2 separate regions of the Homo sapiens genome follow, and region 1 is linked to region 2. The links come from fine-mapping of genetic effects on gene expression. A gene starts in region 2. The other region holds a variant in brackets. All regions are shown on one strand. Distances are from middle to middle. Region 1 overlaps PLXDC1 (plexin domain containing 1). Region 2 holds the start of PLXDC1 (plexin domain containing 1).

What was found. PIP is the estimated chance that this variant, and not a neighbour inherited with it, causes the effect.
Region 1: its variant is the best candidate, but not a certain one, in a credible set for the expression of PLXDC1 in blood mononuclear cells (TOPMed, PIP 0.60).

What each region holds. Positions count from the first base shown.
Region 1 is chr17:39,064,431-39,069,796 of GRCh38, reverse strand. It overlaps PLXDC1 (plexin domain containing 1), which reads left to right. Exons shown (of 14, transcript NM_020405.5): 14 at 1,838-5,366. The coding sequence ends at 1,957. It also overlaps the pseudogene RDM1P5. Among named protein-coding and RNA genes, the nearest start is that of LINC02079, 40 kb to the right of the region's middle. The variant A/G (reference allele first, on the strand shown) is at 2,924.
Region 2 is chr17:39,148,296-39,153,661 of GRCh38, reverse strand. PLXDC1 (plexin domain containing 1) reads left to right here and starts at 2,025. Exons shown (of 14, transcript NM_020405.5): 1 at 2,025-2,300. The coding sequence starts at 2,225. RefSeq lists an enhancer at 372-521.

The DNA.
Region 1 (5,366 bases), 84 kb after region 2:
CATTCGGTCCCTGCCTCTCCCCTTCTCCCTCTCCCCTGCCACATACCTGAGAAAACTTCATCCACCCCATCCTGGCACATTTCGAGATGGCTGGCGCCCGTTAAGTCCTGCACCCTGATAAATCAGCACCTCAGAACTCCCTCGGCCCTCCTGTCCTGTGGAACAGCCCCTCTGCTTTTGTTCCCCCATTTGTGAAATCAGAAAAAATCCCCAGAGGAAAGAAAGAAGGCCACAGTGCCACATAGTGCTCATCTAGTGGCTGTGCAGCCTATCTCCAGTGATTTATGGTCTCTCATGCCCAAATGCCAGGCTCAGTACTTACTCAAAGCCATGAGGGAACCAGGGTCTCTGCCTCTTTTGCCTACTGATACCTGCTTTTAAGGCTAAAATTGAGGGGCAGGTGCAGTGGCTCCTTCCTAAGATCCTAGCACTTTGAGAAACCAAGGCAAGATTACTTGAGCACAGGAGTTTGAGACTAGCCTGGGCAACAGAGTGAGACCCCGTCTCTACAAAAATTTAAAAAATTAGCCCAGCGTGGTGGCACGTACCTGTGGTCCCAGCCGCTTGGGAAGCTGAGGTGGGAGGATCCCTTGAGCCCAGTGGTTTGAGGCTGCAGTGAGCCCTGACCATACCACTGCACTCCAACCTGGGCAATAGAGGAGACCCCATCTCTAAAATAGAAATAAAAATAAAATAGACAAGCCAAATAATGATAAGAGCTGCCCTCTGGGAGCTTTAATTGAGGATACTAAGTTTTGAATGTCTCAATTCTGAAGAGCCAGCCTGAGGGGCAGCATGGGATGTGAGGCTCAGCCCCCTTCACTCGGGGCTGCAGAGCTCAGCAGCTCCTGCCCCCAGTCCTCCACTTCTGGCTTCTTACGAGTTCCCCACAGAGTGCAGCAGTGGTGCCTCTGTGACCCTAGTTTCTTCCACGTGGGTCACAAGCCCACCAGCCTCATTAACCCACAGGCCTAGGTCATTCCCCCAGTTTCTTAGGAGGCTTAGTCATTCTGAAGTCTTAGCCTACCTGGGTAACACCTGGGAACTGCAGATCCCTGGGCCACAGGGATTCTGATAGGGCAGGTCTAAGGCAGGCCCAGGAATCTGCATTTTATTTATTTCGAGACAGTCTCACTCTGTCGCCTAGGCTGGAGTACAGTGGCACAATCTTGGCTTACTGCAGCCTCCGCCTCCTGGGTTCAAGCAATTCTGGTGCCTCAACCTTCTGAGTAGTTGCGACTACAGGCACGTGCCACCACACTCAGCTAATTTTTGTATTTTTAGTGGAGACAGTGTTTCACCATGTTGGCCAGGCTGGTCTTGAACTCCTGGCCTCAAGTGATCTGCCCATCTTGGCCTCCCAAAGTGCTGGGATTACAGGCATAAGCCACTGCACAGGCCAGAATCTGCATTTTAATAAGCCCCCTGTTGACTCTGATGTGGATCCTGTGCTACCTTGGAGGGTTATCTTGGCATTTTCAGAGCCTCAAGCATCATGCCAGCCATCTCTGAGCCACTCCCTCACATTGCAGTCCTAGGTCTCCACTTGGTGTATTGCTGAACCTTTCAGCTGTGAGTTCTGCAGACCACACAGTGAAGGATAAAGTGTCCTCCTTCCACACTCTAGCTTTCGGCAGGTTTCCCAGTGGTTGGGGGATCACAGCACGGAACATTTTAGGGAGAGGGTCCCTGAAGGTCAGTTGTGTGGCTCCTGGTAGGCCCAAGTGCCCCAGGGCCCTTATAAGAGACAGTCTTGGTTGGCTCTGTCGCTCAGGAGTGTGGGGTCCCCATGGGGGCGGGGGCATGCCCACTGACTTTGCCTCTGTGCCTTCTGCAGCGTAGACCTCACCACTGGCCAGCCATGAAGTTTCGCAGCCACCCTGACCATTCCACCTATGCGGAGGTGGAGCCCTCGGGCCATGAGAAGGAGGGCTTCATGGAGGCTGAGCAGTGCTGAGAACACCAAGTCTCCCCTTTGAAGACTTTGAGGCCACAGAAAAGACAGTTAAAGCAAAGAAGAGAAGTGACTTTTCCTGGCCTCTCCCAGCATGCCCTGGGCTGAGATGAGATGGTGGTTTATGGCTCCAGAGCTGCTGCTCGCTTCGTCAGCACACCCCGAATATTGAAGAGGGGGCCAAAAAACAACCACATGGATTTTTTATAGGAACAACAACCTAATCTCATCCTGTTTTGATGCAAGGGTTCTCTTCTGTGTCTTGTAACCATGAAACAGCAGAAGAACTAACATAACTAACTCCATTTTTGTTTAAGGGGCCTTTACCTATTCCTGCACCTAGGCTAGGATAACTTTAGAGCACTGACATAAAACGCAAAAACAGGAATCATGCCGTTTGCAAAACTAACTCTGGGATTAAAGGGGAAGCATGTAAACAGCTAACTGTTTTTGTTAAAGATTTATAGGAATGAGGAGGTTTGGCTATTGTCACATGACAGACTGTTAGCCAAGGACAAAGAAGTTCTGCAAACCTCCCCTGGACCCTTGCTGGTGTCCAGATGTCTGCGGTTGTCAGCCCCTTCCTTTCCCCCGACCTAAACATAAAAGACAAGGCAAAGCCCGCATAATTTTAAGACGGTTCTTTAGGACATTAGTCCACCATCTTCTTGGTTTGCTGGCTCTCCGAAATAAAGTCCCTTTCCTTGCTCCAACTCCTTGTCTCTCAACGTATTGGCTATGACGCAGCAAGCAGAATGAATTTGGACTCAGTTACAGGCTGTCAATGGTCTGCTCTGTAGCAGTCTCAGAGCCTCCCCGACCCACTACCTGGAGATAGCCAGATAGCCAGATGCCCTGCTCCTGGCCACCTTTAAAGCCCCTGCATATGACACAGGTTAACTAAAGTCAAGATTGGGGCTGCTGCATTCCAGGTTCCCTAGACTCACAAGCTGGTCCTTGGCCAGGTGC[A/G]GTGGCTCACGCCTGTAATCCCAGCACTTTGGGAGGCTGAGGCAGGCGGATCACCTGAAGTCAGAAGTTTGAGACCAGCCTGGCCAACATAATTAAAATGTCTCTACTAAAAATACAAAAAATTAGCTGGGTGTGGTGACGCTTGCCTGTATCCCAGCTACTCAGGAAGCTGAGACACGAGAATCACTTGAACCTGGGAGGCAGAGGTTGCAGTGAGCTCAGATAGTGCCACTGCACTCCAGCCTGGGTGACAGAGCGAGACTCCGTCTCAAAAAAAAAAAAAGAAAGCAGATCCTCATGGCTATAGAGTTGGCATTTTAGCCCCAGCTTCTGTAGCTCTGAAAGCCTAAAGAAGGTATTCTCTCCATCTGTTAAACACAGTATAGTGGCTCTCAGCCCTTGGGGCATGTTATCATGGGAGGGAAGTCAAATAAGAGGAGAGAAAAGAACTCAAGGGGGAAACTGCATTTTTAGGCTTTGCTCTCTTACCTTGCCCTTTCTACTCAGAACCAATAACTTCTGCATCAAAACATGTTACAGCCTGCATCAAGGGCTTTACCCCAACCTGCAGCCCAGCCTTCCCTGGGTGAGCTTGCTATGCGCAGCCACATTTACCATGTGGGGCTCCCTATTCTGATGGCCTGTTCGGTGCCGGGTTTACTCACTGCCCTGTTCTGATGTCAGTGCCTGTACATACCTCCAAAGGCAGGACTTGCCTGATAAATATTTTTCCTCCTCTGAACTGGATTTTATAGGCATTAAAGACAAGTCGGGTGGCTAGAGGGCTCCTTGAGACATACCTAGCAGGGAACTGCAGGTGGATTCTGTTGAGAGGCAAAGCACCTGAGTGGTTGGGACACAGGCAGCTGGCATGGGAGGGACTTTTTTTGAGACAGGGTCTCACTGTGTCGCCCAGGGCAAGGATGCCCAAAGACACCAGGTTGGAGAGGCACCTGCCAACTACTTGCTTTCCCTGGAGCCTGCATGTGCCTGTGGGGTGGGGAGGCGTAGGGGTCTACGGCTGCCTGAGATGGGTGTGCACAGTGTGTGAAGTACCTACCTCCTTGCCTTGCTGGACTGTCAGCCAGTCGCAGGGCCGGCCACAAGACCCATGTCTCCATCTGGTCATACTCCATAGCTACCAAGTTAACCTGCTCTAAACTTTGGAGAACTGGATCTGTCCAATAAACGCTTATTTGGCCAAGCCTGATGGCTCGTGCCTGTACTCCCAGCACTTTGGGAGGCTGAGGTGGGAGGGTTGCTTGAGCCCAGGGGTTTGAGACCAGCTTGGGCAACAACAACAAAAATGCCAGGTGTGGTGGGGTGCACCTGTAGTCCCAGCTACTAGGGAGGCTGAGCCAGGAGGATCACTTGAGCCCGGGAGGTTGAGGCTGCAGTGGGGGGTCATAATCATGCCACTGTACTCCAGCCTGGGTGACAGAGTGAGACCCTGTCTCCGAAAAAAAAAAAAAAAAAAAGAACGGAAAAAGAAATGCTTACATTGTCAGGGATCCTGTAGACAATCATTAACTCTATGAGATGCTTGGTTCTATTTTTTTGGGAGACTTTGTCCAAGTGTTTTGGCTTAAGAAATCCATAGGCCTCTCTTGGTGACACATCTCTAGTACTTTTTGTCATAAACAAACAGGCCATCTGCCGCCAAATACATCCACTCCCCATGCCACTGACATCCTATGGGTCAGCCAGGCTTGCTTTGACTGAGGCCGAGGCATCTGGAACTTTCTCTGCCTGCAGGGGCTAGCAGCAGAGGCTTCACCGCATCACCACCCCTTCCTCCACTCCTGACATTCTTTCCCTTCAGGGATCCAAAATGGTTGGCCGAGCTCCCAGTGGGAAAACGTGTGCTAGAGTTGGGGAGTGAGATGAGTGGTGCTGTCCATGGAATCAGGCCACAGCAGGAACTGCCCCACTGGCCATTTGAGACACACACAGGTGGTAAATGCTCTGCTGGTGGGCTGTGCTTCCCTCATTCAGAGAGCTCTGTTACAGCCCACTGTGTCCTTTAGAAGCTTGAAAGGAACCCAACTCTTTGCTGCACTGTCCTTTTTCTTCCTCAAATTCAGACCCTCCTTCCACCGGCACCCCCCTACTCCACCCTCAGCTCTTCCTTGCCTGGTTTATCAAGCAGAGCTGAGGCCCCACGTTTCCAACTCTGATTGTCACTTGCATCTTCACAAAGGATAAACCACGGAGCAACTGGAAAACCATCAGCCAAGCGTTCGGATGAGTCTGGTTATTGGTCCACCCCCGACCAGATTCCCTTACACTTAACTCACTTCTTTCTTTGGCAATGACCCTCATGACATGTATAAATGGGTATGACTAAGAAGAGGCTGTGATCTAACATTTATTTGCTGCCATTTTTTACTCTGGGGAGAAGCAGCCCCAACTCATCACTGGGAAAGAACTCCCCCTGCAAACC
Region 2 (5,366 bases):
TGGCAGACGAGGAGCAGTGAGGGACTGAAAGGAACTGGGGATTCAACAGCAGTGGCTCTCAAAATGTGGTCCTGGGACCAGCAGCATTACCTGGGTACGCTCGGGCCTCATCCCAGACCTAATGAATTAGAAACTTGAGGGTGGAGTCCAGAAATCTGTGTTTTCATATACGCTCCCCATCGCTTGAGTCCAGGAGTTGGAAGCTGCAGTGAGCTATGATCGCAGCACTGCACTCCAGCCTAGGCAACGTGCGAGAACCTGTCTCAAAAAACAAACAAAATACACACACACACACACACACACACACACACACACACACACACACACCCTGCAGGTGATTACGATCTCAAGTTCTAGAGGCTTACGTTAAAATTTACACATTTGCTTCTACTATTTACAAGTTTATGTTTCAGCCTGAGCTCTTCTTGTAAGACAGACCACGAGGTACCCCAGATGGAGGAATGTGCAAAGACGCCGGGGCTGGAGCTGGAATCCGTCCCGAGACTTCTCACCTTGACCTCGAGGAAGGCAGGAGGTCGGAGACAGGGGGTGGGCAGGCTGGGGAAAGAGGAAACCCGCAGGACAAGAGGGTTGTGGCTCGTCACGTGGCCACTTGAGGGCAGCAAGTAGCTGCAGCTGGAGGTAGCTGCCTATCTGATTCTGTTTGAGAGTCCGCCAAGTTGGGATTTAAATTAGACATCAAGAAGAATTTACAGACCGGCCTTGCCTTGTTCCACGGTAAGGGGACATTGGGTTTAGGGCTGGAGGAGGTAGTCTCTGGGACTCTGGGCCCGGCGGAAGGAGGAACCGGCGTTCTAAGAGATTAGAGAGCCTTTAGTTGTTTCCTTTCTTAGGTGTTTTTTTTTCTTTTCTTTTCTTTTTTTTTTTTTTAACCTCAGTGCCACGGAATCCGTCTCTTCCAGCCCACAGTGTACCTTCTCCTGTCCCCGCCCATATCCCTCCTCCTGGAAAATTTCTCCAATGGCGCTCAGCGTTCGCACCCTTCCTCTCCGCGGTTTTCTAGTCCCTAGGCCCCAGCCCACTAGAAGCCAGGATGCCCCCTCACCCCGTCTCCCACTCTCCAGCGCCCCAGCTCCTTGCCGTCACAAGAACGAAGTAGGTCAGGGGAGGGAAGAGGCATCTTCGTGTCCTGACCTGATTCCTTGCCGTCTATTAAATATCCTACATTGCGGGTATTTTTATTCTGTCCTGGAAGAAAAAATAAAAAGATTATCTATCCCCAGAGCCTGTCAGAAGGTGGTGACAGGTGGGGTGAGCCATTTCCTCGTCTGGGGCTGGCTCTGAAGATTGATTGGGTCTGGCCCTGAGTAGGCCTGGAGGCCCCAGAGAGGCAGGAGGCCTGGGTTACCTACTCGTGGGGAGGGGTCCAGACTGTTGCAGAGTAAGGGGTAGCCAGGCCCCCTCCACCCTCACGTCTGCTAGGCTTGGGGGGCAAATCGGTGCTGGAAATGGGGGGTGGAGGGATAAGGTGGAGTCATGGAAGGGGGGTGGGATTCAGGCCCCTCTTGGGGAGAAAAGCTGGGGGTCTTTGCTGCAGGGGGAGATTTCTGGGGGTGGGGGCTGGAGGACAAAGCATCAGAGACGCACAGAATTCCGAAGAACAGCTCAGGAAGTCGCAGAGCTTGGAGGAGCTGGGGGCGGGGAACAGTCAGGGGCCCGTGACCCAGGGATGGGGCGCCTGTCCCTTCCAGGGGTCCAGTCCTCGGGCCTTCTCTCTGCAGCTTTCCCGGCGGAACGGAGGAGGGAAAGGGAGCCAGGAGCTCAGTGAGGAGCGCGGGGCGGCTGATGCTTCTAGGGGTTCTCTCAGCCCGAGGGGCTCCCGCCCTGTCCCCTACTCTGCACCCCTTGCCTTGGGAGCGGCTGCAGAGCTCTAGGGGAGCGCTCCGTTAGGGCTGAGGGCAGGCGCCGGGAGAGCCCCCAACGACGCCGCGCCCCCCGCCCCGCCCCCTGCCCCAGCTCCCCCCCACCCCCACCGACCCAGCGGCCCCCCCAGCTCCCCGCCTGCTCCCGGAGGCCGCAGCCTCCAGCTCCGCTCGCGCTCTCGCCGCTCCTGCCGGCTCGCCCGGCCCCGCGCTCCGCCGTCTCCTCGCCGCCCGCCCCTCCGCCAGCCCCGGGGACCGCGCGGCCGCAGCCTGAGCCAGGGCCCCCTCCCTCGTCAGGACCGGGGCAGCAAGCAGGCCGGGGGCAGGTCCGGGCACCCACCATGCGAGGCGAGCTCTGGCTCCTGGTGCTGGTGCTCAGGGAGGCTGCCCGGGCGCTGAGCCCCCAGCCCGGAGCAGGTAGGACTGGCGGGAGCCGGCCCGGGTGGGCCGGGGGCGGGGAGGGACGGGCAGTCAGGTGTGGGCATGGGCAGGTGTGGACGGCCTGGCGATGTCCGCGAGGGGGGCATTGTCCGCAGGAGGCCAGGAGAGCTGTGGGCTGTGGGCAGGTGGATAGGGACCCCACTTTCCCAAACACATAGGGTGTGTGAGTGACGGTGGAGACACCGATGCCCGGACCTCTCCTTCTCTCCTGGAAGGATACTGGAGGGACCTTAGGAGAGGGGGCTCTATGTGGCCATGGGCTCTGAAAGGGGACAGCGGGAGAGTCATCAGGACCCCTGATCACCCCAGGCAAGGCTGAATTCTGATGAGATGGGAGCCTGGGGAGGCCCCTGCCCCAGCCATGCCTTCTTTTCCTCTTCTCTGCCACACCCCCGACCCCAAAGCTGATCCAGGCTAGGGATAGGTGGGAGCAGCCAGGGGGATGGTGGGGACACAGCGTCTCTGCCTGGGAAGGCAGCAGCCATTCGGTCACCTTCCCTTGCCTATTTGGTGTCAGTAGAGAGGCAGTGGGCCCAGGAAGAAGCAACTTGCTGCTTCTGCACCCCCAGCCTCAAGAGTCCCCCTCCTCACACCTGCTCCCATTTGCCCTGGCAGCCTTTGGCTTTCAGCTACTCTGGCTCTAGATGGGGCACTGGGGTAGGGGGTGGAGGGAGGCGTCCCATTCTGCACACTCCTCTTCCCCCCTACCAGTTCTCCAAACTCATCTCTCCCACCTGGAAGTCCTTTCTGAGATCTACCTGGAATCCCTCATGGTATAATTTTCATAGTCTCTGTTCTCCCCTAAGCACCTAGACTTTCTCTGGGGTTGGGGAGATGGGTAATTTGCAGCCTGGCCCCTCAGCAGAGATGATTAAGAAGATAGATACCTGTGCATCATTGGCATGGGTGCCCCTCAGGTGGGGTGAGGGAGGCGCTGTTGAGGTGAGTGCTGTGGTTGACCTGCTGTGTCTCAGGAGTGTGCTGGCACCAGGCACAGTGTCAGTGGCAATGTTCTTGACTTTAATGGTCCCAGCATGTAGCTGAGACAGACCTGGGTCCCTATTGAGAAGAAGAGTATGTTGGGGGTGGGAGGGGAAGGAGGCTGACAGTGGGAAGTATGGGCAGAGGGCAGTGGAGCTGACGAACCGAGAAGCTGCTGGTGAGAACCACCAATTTTCAGGGAGACCACACAGAGGGTGGCCAGAGACGTGGCTTCTAGTCCCGCCATCTCACTTGCTGTGTGACTTTAGACAAGTTACTTTCTCTCTCTGGACCTATTTTTGCATTTATAAAGTGAGGCTGTTGGCAAAATCTTTGACTCTTGTGCGTGGAATAATGAAGGATCTTTTATAATTGCCTTTCCTTTTCATATTTGTTAGGGTCTTTATGGGTAACTGATACTTTAAAAAAATCAAGGTAAACAGGAGAGAGTTGGATATGTTATGAATAATTTCTGGGCTCCTTTGAATCCTCAACCTGGTGTGATCTTCTGAACTCTGGGTGTAACAGAGTTTATGAGGGGAGGATCTGAACCTTTGGCTGGATTGTGTGAACCACGGAGAGGGCTGGGGAAGGGGGAATTGGGAGGTAACAAGGATGGGCTGGGAGATAGTGGCCAGACCCGGGCCTGGCTGAGGGCGGCCCCTTCAGAGTAGGGTTGGGGTAGTAGACGGTTGAGGAGACCAGGAAGAGTGGGGCAGGCAGAGACTTGAATCACTTCTCTAAGTAGAGGCTATCCTGTCTTCTTGGCTTTGACAGAGATTGAGCCAGGAGAAATGCACTTTTTCTGCAGCAGGAGGGATAGAGGTTAGACTTAAGGAATCTGTAAGAAGCCAGAGGCGGCAGCTGTTGACTCCCAGTCCGGTGCCCTTTTCACAGGCCAGGTGGGATTTCACAGGCAGGAGGACCTATGAGGAGGAAGCGGGTGTCTGGGGAGGCCAGATGTAGGAGAAGGACGTTCTGGGGGAGAGTTGCTAAGGAGGGGCAGCCTGACCTGATTGATGGCGGAGTTGTTGTGACCAGTGGAAGGGCAGCTGGGAGCAGGACCTGAAGAGATGCTAGCATCCTTCCCCAAGGCTCTGGGTTTGTGGGGCTGGTGGGGGGCCTTGGGAAGTAGCTGAGATCTCCCCTCGCTCCTGATGGACAGGCTTGTTTGGTAGAGCCTTGAAACCTCATCTATCATTAGAACAGCAGCAGCAGAGAGATGAGTGGCCCAAAGACAGAGTCAGACAGCAGGGGAGACCAGGATGACAGACAGGAAAATGGCCTTGGGGTGCAGAGCAGGGGCCCAGGGAACTGACAGTCTGGTCAGATGGAACCAGAGGTGCATATGACAGATAAAGAAGAGGCAGCGAGAGTTGGCATCCTGGCCTGGGAGTCCTGCAGGAGGCCAGGCTCAATACCAACTACTGGTGACCCTGACAGCTTCCTCCTTTCTCTGAGGAAGGTTTCCCCGTCTATAAAATGGGGGCTTGCACCAGTCACGGTGGCTCATGCTTGTGATCCTAACACTTTGGGAGGCTGAGGTGGGAGGATAGCTTTAGACCAGGAGTTTGAGACCAGCCTGGGCAAAATAGTGAGACCCCATGTCTATAAATGATTTAGGCCAGGCAGGGTGGCTCATGCCTGTAATCCCAGCACTCTGGGAGGCCGAGGCCGGCGGATCACCTGAGGTCAGGAGTTTGAGACCAGCCTGGCTAACATGGTGAAACCCCGTCTCTACTAAATATACAAAAATTAGTATATTTAGTATTGTTATTAATATTATTAATATTAGTATATTAGTAAAAATTAGCCAGGCGTGGTGGTGCATGCCTGTAATCTCAGTTACTCAGGAAGCTGAGGCAGGAGAATAGCTTGAACCCGAGAGGCAGAGGTTATAGTGAGCTGAGATCGCACCACTGCACTCCAGCCTGGGCAACAGAGTAAGACTCTGTCAAAAAAAAAAATTAAAATTAAAATAAAAAATTAGCTGGGCATGGCGGTGTGCGCCTGTAGTCCCAGGTACTCGGAAGGCTGAGGCAGGAGGATCGTTTGAGCCCA